Homo sapiens: one gene and its partners. The protein of the gene in region 3 purifies or fractionates together with the protein of the main gene of each other region. This does not show direct contact. Each region holds a gene or a part of one and is shown on either strand. Other genes may lie near its edges.

Region 1 (4,512 bases), on a different chromosome or scaffold from region 3:
CATTTGTAGCACCCTCAAAGAAAGGTGCATGTCCTTCTCCAAACAAAGACCCGAAGGCAAGTTCCATGTGTTCTTACCCTCAGTGAGGCTTATGTAATTGTTTTGGAGATTACCAGAAAGGTTAATATTAACAGCTTGTTTTAAAGTTCACCTTTAACATTTCTTGTTCCTTTCTATTTTGATTCCCGGGGAATACACCTATCATGGGCAATAATGACTTAAGGTGGAAACGGAATCTACTTTTATTACAGAATATTTTTTATGTTTTGATAAGAGAGAGAAAGGCCTCAAACCAGTATATATTGACCAAGAATAAATGGGGTGTGTTGCAGTGCTGTTTTATCCTTAAATGTTTGTTCCAGCTTCTTTGGGGTCCAAGAGTTAGGAAGGAGGAAAATTAGCACTAGTAGTTTGAAAACATTGTCCTGCAAAGAACACAGCCGAATGGTACCCAGCAATAGTCAGCGTCCTTGTCAGTCAGTAAGCATCTTACTGTGAGGGCCCTTCGTCTCATCTCTGCCTTCTGCGAGTGGTCTGTGGATGTTGTTGAGGGCATTTTGAGATCAGTCTGAGTTGTCTAGCTCCACTAGTTGTCTAGCTGCAAGAGTGGGAGAAGAAGGGAAGGGATTAGAGAGCCCAAGCTTTCCTTTTGTTTAGGGGAACTCTCAGCATGGAGGAAGAAAGGAAAAGAGATTAGGTAAATTCACCTGCACTGGTTTATATAATCCAAAAACCTTGTGAAGGTATCACCCCCTGTTATAGATGGGAAAACAAAGGCTGAGAGAAAAGCAAATGCAGAGCTAGGATTCAAACAGGTCTGTCAGAGACACGGATTCTGGGCTGTCAATTGAGCTCATGTTCTTGTTCTTTGGCCGAGAGAATCAATCCCCCCCACCCCAGTTGCATAGCCATGTGGCTCAAGTTTCAGCCTCAGCAAAATTACAAAGTGCTGCCTGTCATGGAGTTTATGAGTATGAATTCTAGGGATTTGAACATATAATATTTCAATGAACAAATGCATGCTTTTCCTGAATCCTGCTTATCTGGCCAGCATAGCTTGCAGAAGTCAGTCACAGTCATTCTGAGGCCAGTCACACACACGGTCTCCCTGCAAGGAGCCCTGTCCACGGACGGGGAAAAGCAGAAGCAGGTAGGATCAGTTCAATTCATATATTTATCCAGGCAACAGATATCTACTGAATGTCCTCTCTGTCCTCTGTGCTCACTGGGAAAACCTTAATGAATAAGACCAGCATGGCATCTGCCCTCACAGAGCTTACTGTTTAGTGGAGAGATTGATCCTAAATGAATAATGATACAAGTAACCTATAGTTACATAGAGTAAATGCTATGAAGGAAGTACAAGTGCACAAAATCTATTTTTGGAGGGATCCAGGAAGGCCTCCCTGAAGAAGTGATACCTCATCTAAGACATTAAGTAGGCGGGGCGCAAGGGCTCACCCCTGTAATCCTAACACTTTGGGATGCTGAGGTGGATGGATCACCTGAGGTCAGGAGTTCAAGACCAGCCTGGCCAACATGGCAGATCCCCATCTCTACTAAAAATACAAAAATTAGCCAGGCGTGGTGGTGGGTGCCTGTAATCCCAGCTGCTTGGGAGGCTGAGGCAGGAGAATTGGTTGAACCCGGGAGGCAGAGGTTGCAGTGAGCTGAGATCGTGCCACTGCACTCCAGCCTGGGCAGCAGAGCAAGACTCCATCTCAAAAAGAAATAAATAAAAGACATGAAGTAATGGTGTTAGCCAGGCAAATGGGGAGACAAGAGTTTTCCAGAAAGAAGGCACTGAATGTCCAAGGGCCTTGAGGCAAAAAGATGCTTAGTGAGTCCAAGGAACATAGAACAAGCTAGCAGGGCAAGGATGTAGTGAGTAAGGGGAGAATAACACTAAATGAGACTAGAATAGTCCATGGAGGAGGTTGTGAAGGGCCATCTTGGCCATGCTAAGGAAATTCAGCTGGTTCTAATAACAGAGTGAAGCCATCAAAGTGGTTGGTTCCAAGTAAGGGAGTGTCATGATCAGATCTGCAAATTTAAAGGCTGCTCTACCTGATGTGTAGCGAATCATTTGGCAGAGGGCCAGAGGGGCCAGGGGAGGGGTAATGGTGACAAGGGTGTGGCAAGGACAGAAGGACAGTGGAGAAGGCAGTGGATGGGACAGAAGCACTTTGAAGATAACTTTGACAGGGCTCTTAAGTGACTGAGTCTGAAGGGTGACTCCCAGGGTTCTGCCATTACTGATATGGAGAAAGATCTGCAAAGAAGATGAAGAGCTCAGGTTTGACATATTAGGTAGGAGATTCCTATAGTGATGATGATGATGATGATGATGATGATGAAATAATAATTAACTCTTGTATTGATCCAAAACTACTAACAATACTATCAGCTGAAATATCTTGAGCCAGGCATTATGGCTCAAACCCTTTTCAATGCTAAATGTCCTCATACAGTAATCAGCAACCTCTGACATAACAACTCTTATCCCTACCGAAGCATAAAATCCAAGGCCTTGTTGACTAGACCAGCAGGGCTGAAGTCCACTGGCCAGGGTTTCCTCCCCCATAGACAGTGCTGAGATGGGCACTGCTAACATTTGCTTCTTTAACTTTCCTGCATGATTTAATAAACTCCACATTCTTCTTGCTTGCCCTCTAAGTTTCCCCTGTCCCACCCTATTCAGTCAACTTTTTTTCCACTTCTTTCAAAATCATTTTTGTATTTTTCAGAGTGGCACATGCCTTAAGAAAATCAAAGTCTACAAAAAGGCTCTTCCTAAGACAATTCCTAACTAGTCTCAAATAAAACAGCTCATATTTCCCTATTTACAACCCTCTAAGTCTATAGATACCCTGTTTGCTCTCAAAGGCCAAACTCCACATTATAATGTGGCCTACCCTACCTTCCAATCTCATCTAGTACTTGTCTCCCTTTTATTACTCTGATTTTTTTAAGTTTCTCGATTTATAAAGTCATTACCTTATGTTAGCTGAAACACTTTAAGTATCAAATGTAATTTTCATTGCCTTCCATGGATGCCATTAACGTGGTATATGCATCCCCAGTGCTTCCACCCAGTTCCAGAGGCTGGGAAGTCCAAGGTCGAGGGGCTGCACCCGGGAAGGACTTCTTGCTGCGTCTTACCACGGCAGAAGGCTTCCTACCCTGATTTTCTGTCTTGTTCTCTAAGCATGCTTTTCCTCAGGACATTTGCTATTGCTGTTCTCCATGGACTGCTTTTCCCTTTGACCTTTGCATGGTTGCCTCCTCATCCGTCAATACTCAGCTCACAGACCCTCCGTGGCTAGAGTGGGCTGCTTCCCTTATTCCCCTCAGTGTTACTGTTTATCACAGCATCTGATTTATTTATTTGATTGCATTTGCCACAAACTATAATCAATATTGTTGACTAACTTATCATCAGGCTTCCTGCAACTAGAATATCAGTCCACAAGGACTGGGCCCAAGGCTCTAAATTCCACTGTGTCCCCAGACTCTAGCCAGTTCCTGATATGCAGTAGGTGCTCAGTAAATGTGTGCTGTTTGAAGGTTGAAAGGGCCTTGCACTTCCATCTCAAGGCAGCTTTGTTTCCTGTGTTTCCAGACTTTTTGAACATGCTGTTGTATACTTACTGTACTTCTTCACAGATTACAGACTTTAGTTTTGAGAGATTTTGCTTTTCCATCATTTTATCTGAAGGTTGAGAAAAAACATATTGAATGTATTACTTGAAAATGTAACCTGATAAACCGCTTAAAATGTAACCTGATATACCACTTAAAATGATTTGTTCTGTGTCCTAAATCTGGATACAGTGTAGCTCAGTCCTTTTAATAACTGTTAGTGAAAGTGCCATCATCCCCGTTTGATAAATGAGGAGACTGAGAAATGATGGTGTACTTATGTGCAACTGGAAGTCTTCAAGTCCCCAGAACTCTCTCAATACATTTGCCTAATGTGACCTTCTGCTCATTTGCCTCAATTCCACACACTTCTAGAATCTATTGGGGCTGGCCTGTAGATTTGGGATGAGATACCTTTATAACTTTTTGTTTTCCTATTTTCATTTTTAGACCTACGGAAAAGTAGAAAGAATAGTATAACGAATGCCCATATATATACCGTTTACGCTGATTCATTAGCTTCTAAGATTTTGACACATTTGGTTTACCTATTGATCCATGTATATACCATTTTTTCTGAAACAGTTGATAAGTGCGCCATCATAATTGTATTGCTTAAGTACTTCAGCATGTTCAGCATGTATCTCCTAAGCGTAAGGATATTGTACTTCATACCACTGTGCATTATCACACTCACGAAACTTTTCTTTTTTTGTTTTTTTGTTTTGTTTTGTTTTGTTTTTTTTGAGACGGAGTCTAGCTCTGTCGTCCAGGCTGGAGTGCAGTGGTGTGATCTTGGCTCACTACAACCTCCACCTCCCGGGTTCAAGCAATTCTCCCACCCTCAGGCTTCCGAGTAGCTGGGATTAC
Region 2 (4,512 bases), on a different chromosome or scaffold from region 3:
ATATATATTAAAGACAAGGTCTCCCTATGTTGCTTAGGTTGGACTTGAACTCCTGGATTCAAAGGATCCTCTGGCCTCAGCCTCCCAAGTAGCTGGGACGATAGGTGTGTGCCACCAGTACCCAGCAACAGCTGGACATGTTTATCCACACTCTCATATATACATGATATATTCTTACTGAACAAGTACTAGAGGGCAACTACATTTAAGCTCTATGATCTAAAAAGACTCATTTTAAAACAGGTTAAAGATGCAATCAATGTACAAGGGTTTTGCAATTTCTAATCTTGTGATAAAATTGCTAACTTGGAAAAGCTGAACTAATTCAATAAATGAAATCATATTCATATAATTGCACATTATGATTTTCCCAGTAGTTTCTTTATACATTAATTCACATCTGATTGTCCACAACCACCCTAAGTGGTGGAGGGTGCAATATTATCTCCATTTCACAGATGAAAAAATTGGATCTTGTTAGTTAAGTGTGCTAGAGATTACATGAACAGTATCAAGCTTAAGAGCTGAGCTCTGACCCCAGGACCTTTGACTTAGGGTTCATCAATTTTCCTTACACCTCTCATTACCTCTCCCATTTATTAAAAATAAAAATGTATTTATTTATACCTGCAGATTACTGGCATTAGGAACATCTTCGTGTTTCTCATCCAAAAGCTTTGAAATAATCACTAGACTGAGGCACTGTCTCAGTTGCCTAGAATTAGAAGTTAAAAGTATTTAGAATGTATTTTAATTAATACTGCTTGAAAAGCAAATGAATGAGCCAAGAGGAGCTCTAGTTCTAATTGGAAATATAGGCAATGTTTCAAGAGAAGTCTGTACAGGAACATATAAGCTGTTATAGAACAGTAAAATTTTCATGTAAAATATCTGTACATAAAACTTGAGTTATCTGAAGCTCAATAAATCATTTAACGGCCTTATCTTTGACCCTGATGATTTACTGACAGAAAACCTATTTTTTTACTGATGAAATTTATTTTTACTAAAGCAAAAAAAAGCTAATTCATTTATTTTTGTGGAATATGTCATCTGTATTAAGGTAACAGATAAACTAAAATTAAAAATAAAAAAATATTCAGCTTGGGTGACAGAGTGAGACTCTTGTCTCAAAAAAAAAAAAATTACATAATGACCTGAGTTAAGAATTAGAATAAGGCAGAATCAGGCTATCAATGCCTTTTCTCGCAACTGAATATGAAATAAACATATCTGATCTAACATTCAAAGAATGATGAATGGAAATAAACAACCCAAGGCATTTCATTAATGTAAAATTATAAAATTTCTTAATGTTTAATTTTCACTTTTTAATACCTTCCACGTGATGTCCAATTAGGGACCAGCTGTACCAACCACAGGAGGTTGTGGGGATGACTGGAGAGTTCATTTATGCCCAGACAGAGTTCAGGCACCTGAAAAAAAAGAACATGTAAGATTTCTTTTCAAACAGAACAGTAGAATAAAACACCCAACAGATCATCTACAACCCTTCTTGACATAATGGAAGCACTAGTACAAAACAGAGCACATTTTTAGAAATAGCATGGAGTCTAGAATCTGCTAAAATGTACACAATACACAGATTCAGTTTTACTTATACTATCTTAAATGGACTGAACAGATACATTTAGCAGAATTTCACTTGGCTTTCACGTTTTGTACTACATCATATCTCCCATTGATATTTAAACAGTCCTTCTTGGAAAGATAAACTGATCTAAATACAAATGTGTATGAGAGCTGTACAAGACCATATATGTTCCTGATTTGGGATTTCTTGCACTTTAGGGATCCTATTCCAGTATTTTTAAAAGCCTAACACCTGGCCAGGTGTGGTGGCTCAAGCCTGTAATCCCAGCACTTTGGGAGGCCGAGGGAGGTGAATCACTTGAGGCCAGGAGTTTGAGACCAGCCTGGCCAAAATGGTAAAACCCTGTCTCTACTAAATACACAGAAATTAGCTGGGCGGAGTGGCATGTATCTATAGTCTCATCTACTCGGGAGGTTGAGGAATGAGAATCGCCTGAATCCGGAAGGCAGAGGCTGCACTGAGACAAGACTGCGCCACTGCACTCCTGCCTGGGTGACAGGAGATGCTGTCTTACAGAAAAAAAAAAAAAAAAAAGCCTAACACCCCCAAAATATGTATTACCATTGTGTATCAATTTTTAAAAAAGCGTAACAGTTGCTTCAAAATAATCTGATGAGCAGGGAAAGGAAATATAGGGTCGGTTTTACATTAGGCAAGATTATGTCTCAATTATTGAAGCAAAGTGATACTTAGGAATTTATTATACTCTTTGCCTTACTTTTGCATATTTTAATTTTTCCACCAAAAAAGACTGAAAAATATAATTTTTAAAAAGGCCTAACAAAAATTATACATGTTCATCCTCCATATGGTTGCAGAAGTTCAACTCAAATTCTGGTTGTAGGTATGACTCACTCCATCATTTCATTTAGGTCTCTGCTCCAAGGTTATTTTGGAAAGGCCTTTCCCTGCCAGCCTTATATGAAATAGCATAGCATCTGGTCTTGCTGTACTCATGTCCTGCTTTATTTTCATTTGTAGTACTTAACTACTACCTGACATGATAATATAATCAACATTTACTTGTTTATCTAACCCTTTGACTAGGACAAAAGCCCCATGAAGGCAAAGGCTTTGTCTCTTTCACAGCTCAATCTCTAGCACCTACATTAATGCTTAGTCCATAGGAAATCCCCAATAAACACATTTTTGTTGGATAAAGAGTTGAAGTTTTAGAAAAAATTCAATTATCACGAATTTAAATAATACAGCTCCAGCAAACATTCCCTTCCTCAGTTCATTTTTAATCCGCCAAAGATCTTGAGTTTAGAAACAGTATTAATTCCATATGCACTATGAGTCAAATTGTAATGCTATATAAAAAATGAATAATGAAGTTTTAAGTAACATTACCTTTGTGTTCCAATCTCTGATGTTTTTCATCAGGTTTATCAGGAGGCTTTGAAAGTCTACTAAAGGAATCTGTTTCAGCTGTTTTTCCAAACTCATTTTAAATAACATTAAAATCAGCAACATTATTTCACGATCCTGGTAACCTTCTGGATGTATAGATGTACACAAGCCTAGAAACTGTTTAACATAAATGCACAGACAAAAATATTTTAGGAGGTATATTTTACTTTTAGAGTTTTAATTATAAACTCTTTTTGACAAAAGATGCAAAAAAGAACTATAAAGAAAACAAACATCCGATGTCTAGAGAAAAGAAGGCAAGAACTACTCAATGTTAATAGTTGAATTAAGTGGCATTTTCTTCTCCATTTTCCATTTTTGAGATTTTCTTAATGGTTCTGTATCACTGATTCAATTCAGCAACTAAAAATGTTTCACACTGTCATTAACTCTTTTTTTTTTTATCTTCTTTTTTTTGAGACGGAGTCTCACTCTGTCGCCCAGGCTGGAGTACAGTGGTGTGATCTCGGCTTACTGCAACCTCCACCTCCCGGGTTCAAGTGATTCTCCCGCCTCAGCCTCCCCAGTAGCTGGGATAACAGGCACCTGCCACCACGCCTGACTAATTTTTTTTTTGTATTTTTAGTAGAGATGGGGTTTCACCATGTTGGCCAAGCTGGTCTTGAGCTCCTGACCTCAGGTGATCCACCCGTCTTGGCCTCCCAAAGTGCTGGGATTACAGGCATGAGCCACCGCGCCCGGCCTCTGCCATTAACTCTTGATTACTAAGTTGTATTGTAAGTCTTTTTTCTTCATACATCCTACTTATAAAAAACTATTGGTTTCAAAACTATTTAATGATGTAACTGACTTAAAGTTCTGTTCATCACTAATATTAAAACAAAATAAAAACAGCAAAAACAATTTTTAATACAAAGATTATTGCTAAGAAATTTCAGAGACTGGAAATCACCTGGTAAGAAACTAGAGAGTTTTTTTTTTTTTTTTTTTTGAGACAGAGTCTTGCTCTGTTGCCCAGGCTAGAGTGCAGTGGCACGATCCCGGCTCACTGCAAGCTCCGCCTCCTGGGTTCACGCCATTCTCCTGCCTCAGCCTCCTGAATAGCTGGGACTACAGGTACCCGCTGCCATGCCTGGCTAATTTTTTGTATTTTTAGTAGAGACGGGTTTTCACCGTGTTAGCCAGGATGGTCTCGATCTCCTGACCTTGTGATCTGCCCGCCCTGGCCTCCCAAAGTGCTGGGATTACAGGCGTGAGCCACCGCGCCCGGCCGAGACTTTTTTTTTTTTAAAAACCATTAACCACAGACTAAATGGTTCTAGCTCTGAGCAGAAGACACATAAAAGTTCTTTCCTACCTTAACCACATTTAAAATGTTGGTTTCAGGAAGTGTTGAAAAAATTGGCTTATAAGATGAATCTTCACTTTCTTTCCCCCTTGATGTTGTCTGTGTTTCAGAACTATTGAGAAGTGAGTAAAGCAATGTGAAGTTAGGCACAAAATATATAACTCACTTTAAGAAA
Region 3 (5,526 bases):
AAATATTACTGCAGCTTTTTTTTTTTGTTGTTGTTGTTGTTGTTGTTGTTGAGACAAGAGTCCCTCTCTGTTGCCCAGGCTGGAGTGCACTGGCGTGATCTCAGCTCTCTGCAACTTCTGCCTCCTGGGCTAAAGCGATTCTTGTTCTTCGGCCTCCTGAGTAGCTGGGATTACAGATGTACACCACCACGCCCAGCTAATTTTTGTATTTTTAATAGAGACAGAGTTTTGCCATGTTGGCCCAGATGGTCTCGAACTCATGGCCTCATGTGGTCCACCTGCCTTGGCCTCCCAAAGTGCTGAGATTACAGGCATGAGCCATCCTGCCTGCAGCTATTTTTAAATTATGTTTTTGATCATTTTCTTTCTTCCTTTCTTTCTTTCTGTTTTTTTTTTTTTTTTTTTTTTTTTGAGATGGAGTTTCGCTCTTGTCACCCAGGCTGGAGTGCAGTGGGACAGTCTTGGCTCACTGCAACCTCTGCCTCCCGGGTTCAAGCAATTCTCCTGCCTCAGTCTCCTGAGTAGCTGGAATTAGAGGCGCCCACCACCATGCCTGGCTAATTTTTTGTATTTTTAGTGGAGACAGGGTTTTACCATGTTGGCCAGGCTGGTCTCAAATTCCTGACCTCAGGCAATTCGCCCACCTTGGTCTCCCAAAGTGCTGGGATTACAGGCATGAGCCACCGTGCCCAGCCTGTTTATCTTATTTTTTTCCAGCCCATTTTACTTTTTACCTTGCATCCTGTCATCTTTCATCTTCTTCTTTACTTTCTGTGCATGGGAACTCTGCCTCTGTGTATTTCTGGTTACCGGGGCGGGGGGGTAGGGGGGCGCTTTTGTGTTCTGCTATTTCTGTGGACCTATAATGAAGGTTCCTAATGCATATTTCTTGTAGAGAGCAAAGTAAGATGATTATATCAATGGGAAAAGCTATCATTTTAATTTTTCTTCTTGGATCGAACATACAATTTTCAGTCTTTTTTTTTTTTTTTTTTTTTTTTTTGTGACAGAGTCTTGCTCTGTTGCCCAGGCTGGAGTGCAGTGGCACCATCTCAGCTCACTGCAGCCTCTGCCTCCTGGGTTCAAGCAATTCATCTGCCTCAGCCTCCTGGGTAGCTGGGACTACAGGTGCCCGCCACTACACCCTATTCCTATTTTTAGTGGAGACAGGGTTTCACCATGTTGGCCAGGCTGGTCTTGAACTCCTGACCTCAAGTCATCTACCCACCTCTGCCTCCCAAGGTGCTGGAATTACAGGTGTGAGCCACCGTGCATGGCCTACATTCTTCATACCAGATGTAGATTTTAAAGTAGGTGATTCAGCTCTGTTTACCATATATTGGAGAGTATTGCTTCCTCTGTTTCTTTAATTTTTACTTCCGTGTTTATAGTTTGAGCAAAAATCTCAATTCCTTTGCTACAGATCCCTGCCCAGTTTTGCCCTCTTGTTTTATCTTGGTATCTGAATTAGTACCCAAAAGATGGCAGTTTCTTGGTTGAGCAGAAGTCATAGCCTAGGGGAGAAAGAAGCTATCTTTGAGACTGGATGCCTATTCTAGGGAAGATCATTACCTAGATCTCAGCTTCTGTCTCCAGCAGTCAACTTTCTACATCCTACAAAATCCTTTCCTCAGCTATTATTTCTTCTGTGTTCCTTTCTTTTGTTTCCAACATACTGGATTTCTCAAAAGAATATGGCCTTTTCTACTGCATTCTCTAGTGTTTTAGAGCCTGGCTTCTGTGCTCACTACTTTCTTGAAAGTTGCTCTCTCAAAGACATTTAAAAATGTCTGGTTGCCACATTCAGTGGCATTTTATTGTTGCCGTGTTTCTGGCCACATTTAACACTGACAGCTTTTTATTGAGGCAATATGATAGTTCAGTTTAGTTCTAGAGTTTAATAGTCTTCTAGGGGAGCAACTCTCAAGTCTTTATTTCCAGGTATGTTCATACTTCCCAGATTACAGGCCTGCATTTCCAGCTGTCTGCTAGATACACCCTGTGTACCACTGTTACTTCAGCCCATAGGAATGTCAGCTTTCTGTTTCTGCTTTCCAAAGTTATACTATTGGCATTACTATTCTTATAGTCACCTGAGGTTAAAAACTTAGAGATCACTGACTCCTTGTTTTGTTTTTTAAATAATCTTTTAAATTTATTTTTATTTATATATTTATTATTATTATTATTATTATTATTGGGATAGTCTTGCTCTGTTGCCCGGGCTGGAGTGCAGTGGCGTGATCTTGGCTCACTGCAACTGCTGCCTCCCAGGTTCAAGCAATTCTCCAGCCTCAGCCTCCTGAGTAGCTGGGACTACAGGCACGCACCACCATGCCTGGCTAATTTGTACATTTTTAGTAGAGATGGAGTTTTACCATGTTGGTCAGGCTGGTCTCGAACTCCAGCCTGGCCAACATGGTAAAACCCCATCTGTACTAAAAGTACACAAATTAGCCAGGCATGGTTCTAACCTCAGGTGATCCCCCACCTTGGCCTCCCAAAGTGGTGGGATTACAGACATGAGCCACCACACCTGGCCTAATAATCAATCTCTTTTAGTTTTCCATTTTACTTGTATTCTCTTGTATATCCACTACCATACTCTTCTTGCCATCACCACCATTAGTTCTGCATTGTCATGTGCCTATACTGATTATCTTGCTTTCCCTGCTCTCCATACTCCTCTATGTGATTGATCTTGAAGCACAGTTCTCATGTTATTGTCTTATTATTATTTTTTATTTTCTTTTGCCTATTGAATAAAATCTAGGCTTTTAAGCCTGACATTCAAGGCCTGGTTGATGAAGAAATTGGCATGGATGGAAAGAAAGAATGGAAAAGAATTCAGGTTTGATGCTTGACTCTGCAGTGGTGGATGATGAAGCTGAGCTATAAGTCAATTCATTTTTGAACTTGGATATATTAACAGACTTTTGATACCAATTCTAGGTGTAAAGCACTGGATTATAATATTTGTGTCTTTGTAGCACTGTTCTTATATTAATTTTCCTTTCCCAAGTAATTGACATGGCCCTAATATTCTACAGGGGTGTAGGTGCTTCCTTTTAGGTCTTGTCATCATTTTACATTTATATATTTTGAATATTTTCCTCTGCTGCTTTTGTTCTGGTTATTTTCTGCTACCCACAAAGCTCCCTCTTCAGAGTAATTCTTGCCAGTCCCAACCAAAAAAAACACTGTAGGTTTAAATGCTAATTTGGTTTGAATAACTGTTAATGACTTCTAAATTTGCTTGATTGTTTATAGGAAGGACCATTACGACCTGTTCTTGAATACATTGATCTGGTCAGCAGTGATGATGAAGAGCCTAGCACCTCTTATACTGATGTAAGTACATTATATTTGATTTGTGTTTCTTCACTTGTGTCTTTTAAGAGGTATTCTCTAAAGAGAGTTACCAAATCAGGGAAGGCTGTGTTTAGAAATAGCCAGTTCTATTAGAATGGGCTAAAATAGGTAGTCCAAGGAGTCCTTTGCCCAGATCTCCTACTTCCAGTTTTTTTCCTCTACTTTGAATGAGATTATGAAAAAAATGATAATATGACTCTGGGAAATTCAGAGCCTTAGAGGTGATATCTGATAAAATGGAAATGGAATAAAAACTGCAAGCTTATTGATTCCTCTTTCCCTTCTCTTTTCCTTTACTCTCCTCAGGTGCCCTATACAACAGGATTCTTTTGTTCCAGAACCACATGACCACAGAAAATTTGTTTTCTCTTAGAAAAAAGGATATGTAGAGATCCTTTTAGGAATGGAAAGTGGGGGAAGGGTTTATAGGGGATATATTACTTCAGTCATCATCCCTTTAACCTTGTCTGTGCCCCACATATTTGGAGTTATTTATCTTACCTGTGATGTACTGGTTGTAGGTTTGACCCTTGGACCAATACTTCCCTTGCTCTGAGAATTGAACTAGTTGAGCCCTTTGTAACAGTCTTGCCTTTCATTTGTCCTTGCTTTAGCCCAAACTTCTGTTAATGAGCTGTTTTCATCTTGGATTAGAAAACTCTTAGTTATTGTTCAGAGTGGCCACAAACTTCTTGCTCTGTGATATAGGGGATTGAGACTTGGACTTGGAATCAGAATACCTGGGTTTGAGTCCCAGCTTTACTCTTTACAAATTCTGTGACTTTGGATAAATTAAGTAACCTTTTAGCCTCCGTTTTTTAATCAAATAATACCTACCTCACAGGGTTGTTGTGAGGATGAAATGAGGTAACAAATTATAACTTCTTATAACTACAAACCATAAAGTAGGACTATACAACTGGGAAGTTTTGTTATTCGTGGACAGTGAATGACAGAATTTTCAGAGGTGCCTAAAATGACTCTAATGGGGGAGTTTTAGATTTTTTTTCTTCTCAGTGGAACTTTCCTTAAGTTCTCTTTGCCATCATTAGCTTCTTGCATATCTTGAGTAGAACTTAACATATCTTGAATGGGATATTTTTTTCTTTTATTCTTATGAGTGGTCTCACACAGGACCAAACAGCAGGCCAGCATAGCACCACGTGATCTGAGCTTGTTTTTACTCTCTCCTTTTTCATAAACAGAGTCCCAGATTAATGCCAGTAGTTGATTTTGGGTCTTTGGGGTAGTGAAGCTTGTGGATTTGACTTCTCTGATTCCTTTTGCTGACCTTGAGTGGATTGTATCTTTCACTGTTAATTATAATAATTTAAAAATTGAGTTCTACTTACTGGACATGAATCTCTGCACTTGAAAGTTAACATATTAAAAGCATATTTTTTTTCTTCCTTGGTTTTCTTGTTCATGTGGATAACCCAGAGAATGCCTGAATCTAAGGTGCCATCCTCTGAGAATCATCGCCCAGAAATGTGCTCTAGCTGCAATGTTCCTCTTCCCATTGGAGATAGCAGCTCCTTCTCTGGGAGTTGTTCCAGCAGTCCAGAAAGGATAGTTTCTCAAACTTCCTCTGTTGAGAACCCATTGGAGAACCAGAAAAATGATCAAAATAATTCAGATACTAAGATCTCTGAGACAGAGACCCTTAAATCATCACAGAATTTTCAGACTCTGCCTTCATCTCCACTTCTGGTCCCCCAAGAATCTTTGGCCTCTTCTGAGGTCAAAGAGAATTTACGTATAGATTCTTCTTCAGCTTCACAGCATGGACGGGATGCCATCCTCTATCTCCAGACACAAGTAGCTGAAATGTCCCGAGTGATACGTGATCTGCAGTCCAGGAGCTGTTTTAGATTTCATCATTCTAGGCCAAGTGAGAACTCCTCAGTTCCTTGGGACATCTCCACCTCTAAAGAGGAAAATTTATCCACAGTTGAAGAAGAAACTGATTACAAATCACCATCAGCTGATGACAAAGGGCAGCCATCTGACCCCAGCCAATCTAGTTTCACAGGTCTTTTGAAGAGAATGGAACAAAGAGGTGTTATAAAAAGGGTGACATTACAATCTGAAGCGGAGTCATGTGAAGGGAAACCTGATTGTGTGACTTCTAAAAAACGTTTGGTTCCTCCATTG
Region 4 (4,512 bases), on a different chromosome or scaffold from region 3:
TATTTTAACTTATATAACATCTACAATACTTAAAATAACCATAATATATAACCATAATGCATGTGTGTGAACACAGACTACCCCTAAAAACCATTAAACAGAACTAAGACTATTAAGCACATTTCTGTAAATATTTCTTTGGTGACTGCAAGCCAATAAATTCAATTCTCACAACAAAAGTATTTAGGAATAATATTGAAAGACAAAAATAGGCCTTAAAAAAAGGGCTCTTAAAGTAACCATAAAACCACCTACAAAAATGATTTTTCCCCAAACTGAAAACATACATATTCTATTGCTAAGTTTAAAAATGTTCAAGTTTTTCCTCCCCCATATATTCTGTGTATACGCATTTGTCCCCTTTCTCTCGCTTTCACATTTACTTGTGCTATAATCCAGTCACCCAAACTCCTCTCTATCCTTTTTCTTTCTTCCATCAGCCTTTCTCAGCGGATTATGGCACTTTTTCTCAGCCACTGTACTACTGCTGAACTTTTTTTACTTTTTTAGATCTAAAAGCTAATTTGGAATGGAACTTGAATCACACACTTAAAGTTTCTACCTTCCTCCCCAGTTGTATAAATAAAGATAAATGTGCAAGTTTAATAAAGCAGATTAGAGTTATGAGTACTCTACAGTTAAAATGCTAATAGAGATGGCCATAAAGTACACAAAGGCCCTGCAATAACCACTCTCATAACTTTTAGTCAATGTGTGTGAAGATGTGTGTATCCTGTGTTTTCAAGCCCAGATGCATAAACACAGAGTTGAGAATAAGGGTAGTGGACAATACTAGAAGAAAGAAATGTGCCCCTAGAATCTTCAGCAAATCTGCAGGATGGGAAAAAAAAAAAAAAAAAAATGCCTTCAGGCTTACTATAGCCACTCCCATCATGAAACCAATTATAATAATCCGACTTATACCATGCAAGAAAGATTAAATTAACAGTAAATCTAATAAATTACCATGGAATTACAAGTAAGAGTAGTTTGAAGTTTAAAAACTTTATGCAGTCCAGCAGCTTCTGCTTGTGCTAGTTTCTCTTCAGTCATTTTCACCACAAATTTCACAGTTGTGTCAGTATGATATTCTTTATAATCAGAAATTAATGCTGGTGTTTTATCTGTTCCATTTAGCATAGGTTCTAAAACCTGTTCTTTATATACCTATAAAGATTTAAAAATTAGTGATTCTTTTCATGACACACTCTCATGTTCTCATACTACAAGTCATACAGTCTTGAAAATTCTCAACTCTCATGGGGAATTAAAAAGGAAACCTCAATCTCTATCATCTCCTATCCAATCAGTATAGAAGGCAATACACAGGGATCTCGGTGGTGGGAAAAGACATAAGAAGTAATGGTGCTGACCCACTCATACTCTAAAGGGCAAGATAAAGGCTGAGTATGAAAAGGATGACATCAACTGGAACTGTCAAGAGGTGACATGCATACTTTTAGATTTGTAAAGCTGATGCTGACATGAATTTACTGACCATATTTACAAGAATTAAAAACACTGTCATATTCTACTCCTTTTATTTTAAATAAATACAAAGATAATAGTCTATAAAAGCCTTACCTAACATAAGTCATACTACGCTACTTAGATATAAATACTATTTAAATATTCAAAGCACAAATTCAACTGAAGGGTAAAAGAAGGTACAGGAATTTTTTAACACTACGCACGCTTAGGACCAACAACGGTGGAATCATCCTTACCAGAAAAAATTGCTTAATACACTGCCCTTCCCTCAGGCAGATCACATATTTACACTGACCTGTGTCCAAGTTCTAACTGGAAGCTCTGTAATTTCTACTGTGTTTCTGTCCACTACAAATATTTCACCACTGACTGCATACTGGTTTTGACCAAGTTCTTGAATCGTGCCTTTAAAGTTTTTGTAGTTTGGAAGCTGTAGAGAAAAAGGTAAATAGCATTGACTTCTCTCTTGAGTACCAGTACCATGAGTCTATGGTCTAACATTGACAGATTAACACAACTGAAACAGAATTTCTCATCCTCAATTGTCCCTTTCCAACTGATCAATTAAGCTTGAATTCATAGCTTCTGTTCATACAACCTGAACATCCTCCAATCTCAAAATGTTAGTATCATCTTTCCTAGTCTTCCTAGAACAGTACTTTCTTTCAGCCTACTTCCCCTACACCTACTTCTCTCCTAGATCAATATCCTTTAAATTCAAACTCCTTGGGCCTTACATTGAAAGCATTTCATAGTCTGGACCCAATCTGGCTTTCAATTTTTTCTCTAATGATTTGTCTTACAAAACCACTACTCTTCTCCCATATTTTGTTTGACTATTTTGAATATTCTCACTTTCACTCTATCCACAAGTCCTGACACATATTCAGGCCCAACCCCATTCCATTCATCATTCATCTACATAAATCTTACTCATCCTTCCCAACTGAATTACAAGTCCTCTCTCCCTCTTCTAAGTTTTTATTTGTTTTGAGACAGGGTCTCCACTTTGTCACCCAGGCTGGAGTGCCGTGGCACGATATCAGCTCACTGCAGCCTCAACCACCTGGGCTCAAAGGATCCTCCCACCTCAGCCTCCCAAGTAGCTGGGGTTACAGATGCGTGCCACCATGTCCAGCTAATTTTTGTATTTTTGTAGAGACAGGGTTTTGCCATGTTGCCCAGGCTGGTCTTCAACTCCTGAGCTAGTGATCTGCCCAGCTCAGCCTCCCAAAGTGCTGGGATTATAGACATGAGTCACTGCACCTGGCCTACTCTAAAATTCTTATTCGTTATTATCATTAAGAAATCGAGTATATAGGCCGGGCACAGTGGCTCATGCCTGTAATCCCAGCACTTTGGGAGGCCAAAGCAGGCGGATCACTTGAGGCCAGGAGTTCGAGACCAGCCTGGCCAACACAGTGAAACCCCGTCTCTACTAAAAATACAAAAATTAGACAGGCATGGTGGCGCACACCTGTGGCCCCATCTACTCAGGAGGCTGAGACAGCAGAATCACTTGAACCTGGGAGACAGAGGTTGCAGTGACCCAAGATCACACCACTGTACTCCAGCCTGGGTGACAGAGTGAGACTCTGTCTCAGAAAAAAAAAAAAAGAAAGAAAGAAATTGAGCATATAGCATAGGACATTTCTTCTGGCATACCAAGCAACTATCAATATCGTTTGTCACTGTTAAACTTCAAGCCTTGATGCTTTGATGTCTTGTCTTGACAACTGTTTAACTTTTCAAAGATAAAAACCATAGCTCTTTATCTCACCACTTAGCACAGTTTCATACACATAGTAGGCACATAAGAACCATGTATTGATCAAATACACTATCTTAACAATCTAAAATCCATTTAAAAATCCAAAACCATTTCAGTAAAACACTATCATTAAAAATTTGATGCTTATGTTAGAAATATTTTGAAGTACTTTGAAGTATTTAAGAGAAAAAGCAGAATATATGTCTTATTGCTAAAGAATAACTTTCACTTTAAAATACAAAAATGAAATAAAACTTGGAAAAATACATCAAAATATTGTCTCTATATTGTGGGTTTATGGATTTTTTTACTCTTTGCTTACCTATATTTTCTACAATAAACATTATCATTTTGGTAATAAAAATACACTTTTCTCCAGGTAATTTTAAATCATGGGGAGGAAGGAAGGACATTTTTCTTGGAGGAGGTCTGAGCAGAGTGAATGATACAAGAAAACAACAAACATAAAAAAAAAATGGGGATTTTTTTTTTTTTTTTTGGGAGACGGAGTCTCATTCTGTTCCCCAAGCTGGAGTACAGTGGCGCAATCTCGGCTCACCGCAACCTCCACCTCCTGGGTTCAAGCGATTCTCCTGCCTCTGCCTCCCAAGTAGCTGGGATTACAGGTGCCCTCCAGCACACCCGGCTAATTTTTGTATTTTTAGTAGAGACAGGGTTCTACCTGGTTTGGTCAGGCTGGCCTAGAACTCCTGACCTCAGGTGATCCACCCACCTCGGCCTCCAAAGTGCTGGGATTACAGGCGTGAGCCTGAGCAACACCTAATTTTTTTTGTATATTTAGTAGAGATGGAGTTTCCCCATGTTGGTCAGTCTGGTCTCGAACTCCTGACCTCAGGTGATCCATATGCCTTGGCCTCCCAAAGTGCTGGAATTACAGGTGTGAGCCACCACGCCCAGCCTTGGGGATATATTAAAATATATACAAGGTAGTTTGTTTTCTGTCTTTTTACAAATGGTACACTAATGAATACAATGTGTTTTTAAGCATCCTTACAAACTATTAAGCGGTAGTTTGAGAACAGAAACAAGGTTACACATAATTTTATCAGAAAAGGATTGTTTTCTAATAATATAGGGTTTAGAGGTTTGAAAACCTGGAATATGAGGTGTTTCTAAATTTAAATAAACAGTTTCTCCCCATGAAACTTACCTCCAAAACTCATTCCAAAGTTTATACTTTTTACTGTAGGCACATATCAAATTATACCCTAATTAGGTCTTTACGGTCT

Evidence for each region. Proteins that work in one complex are often made in the same cells at the same time.
Region 1: the proteins of ZNF451 (region 3) and SIMC1 purify together in Homo sapiens (affinity purification with western blotting; one study listed by BioGRID and IntAct). This does not show direct contact.
Region 2: the proteins of ZNF451 (region 3) and SLF2 purify together in Homo sapiens (affinity purification with western blotting, with the first as the bait; one study listed by BioGRID). This does not show direct contact.
Region 4: the proteins of ZNF451 (region 3) and TOP2B purify together in Homo sapiens (affinity purification with mass spectrometry; one large-scale study listed by BioGRID and IntAct). This does not show direct contact.

Annotation. Positions count from the first base shown.
Region 1 is NC_000005.10:176,339,424-176,343,935, forward strand, and holds part of SIMC1 (SUMO-interacting motif-containing protein 1), read left to right. Parts: intron 1-4,512.
Region 2 is NC_000010.11:100,943,963-100,948,474, reverse strand, and holds part of SLF2 (SMC5-SMC6 complex localization factor protein 2), read right to left. Parts: intron 4,450-4,512; coding exon 4,347-4,449; intron 3,146-4,346; coding exon 2,969-3,145; intron 1,437-2,968; coding exon 1,339-1,436; intron 716-1,338; coding exon 628-715; intron 1-627. UniProt on the Homo sapiens protein: Plays a role in the DNA damage response (DDR) pathway by regulating postreplication repair of UV-damaged DNA and genomic stability maintenance.
Region 3 is NC_000006.12:57,095,791-57,101,316, forward strand, and holds part of ZNF451 (E3 SUMO-protein ligase ZNF451), read left to right. Parts: intron 1-3,270; coding exon 3,271-3,351; intron 3,352-4,812; coding exon of another isoform or gene 4,813-5,526. UniProt on the Homo sapiens protein: E3 SUMO-protein ligase; has a preference for SUMO2 and SUMO3 and facilitates UBE2I/UBC9-mediated sumoylation of target proteins. Plays a role in protein SUMO2 modification in response to stress caused by DNA damage and by proteasome inhibitors (in vitro).
Region 4 is NC_000003.12:25,618,896-25,623,407, forward strand, and holds part of TOP2B (DNA topoisomerase 2-beta), read right to left. Parts: intron 1,922-4,512; coding exon 1,787-1,921; intron 1,168-1,786; coding exon 967-1,167; intron 1-966. UniProt on the Homo sapiens protein: Key decatenating enzyme that alters DNA topology by binding to two double-stranded DNA molecules, generating a double-stranded break in one of the strands, passing the intact strand through the broken strand, and religating the broken strand.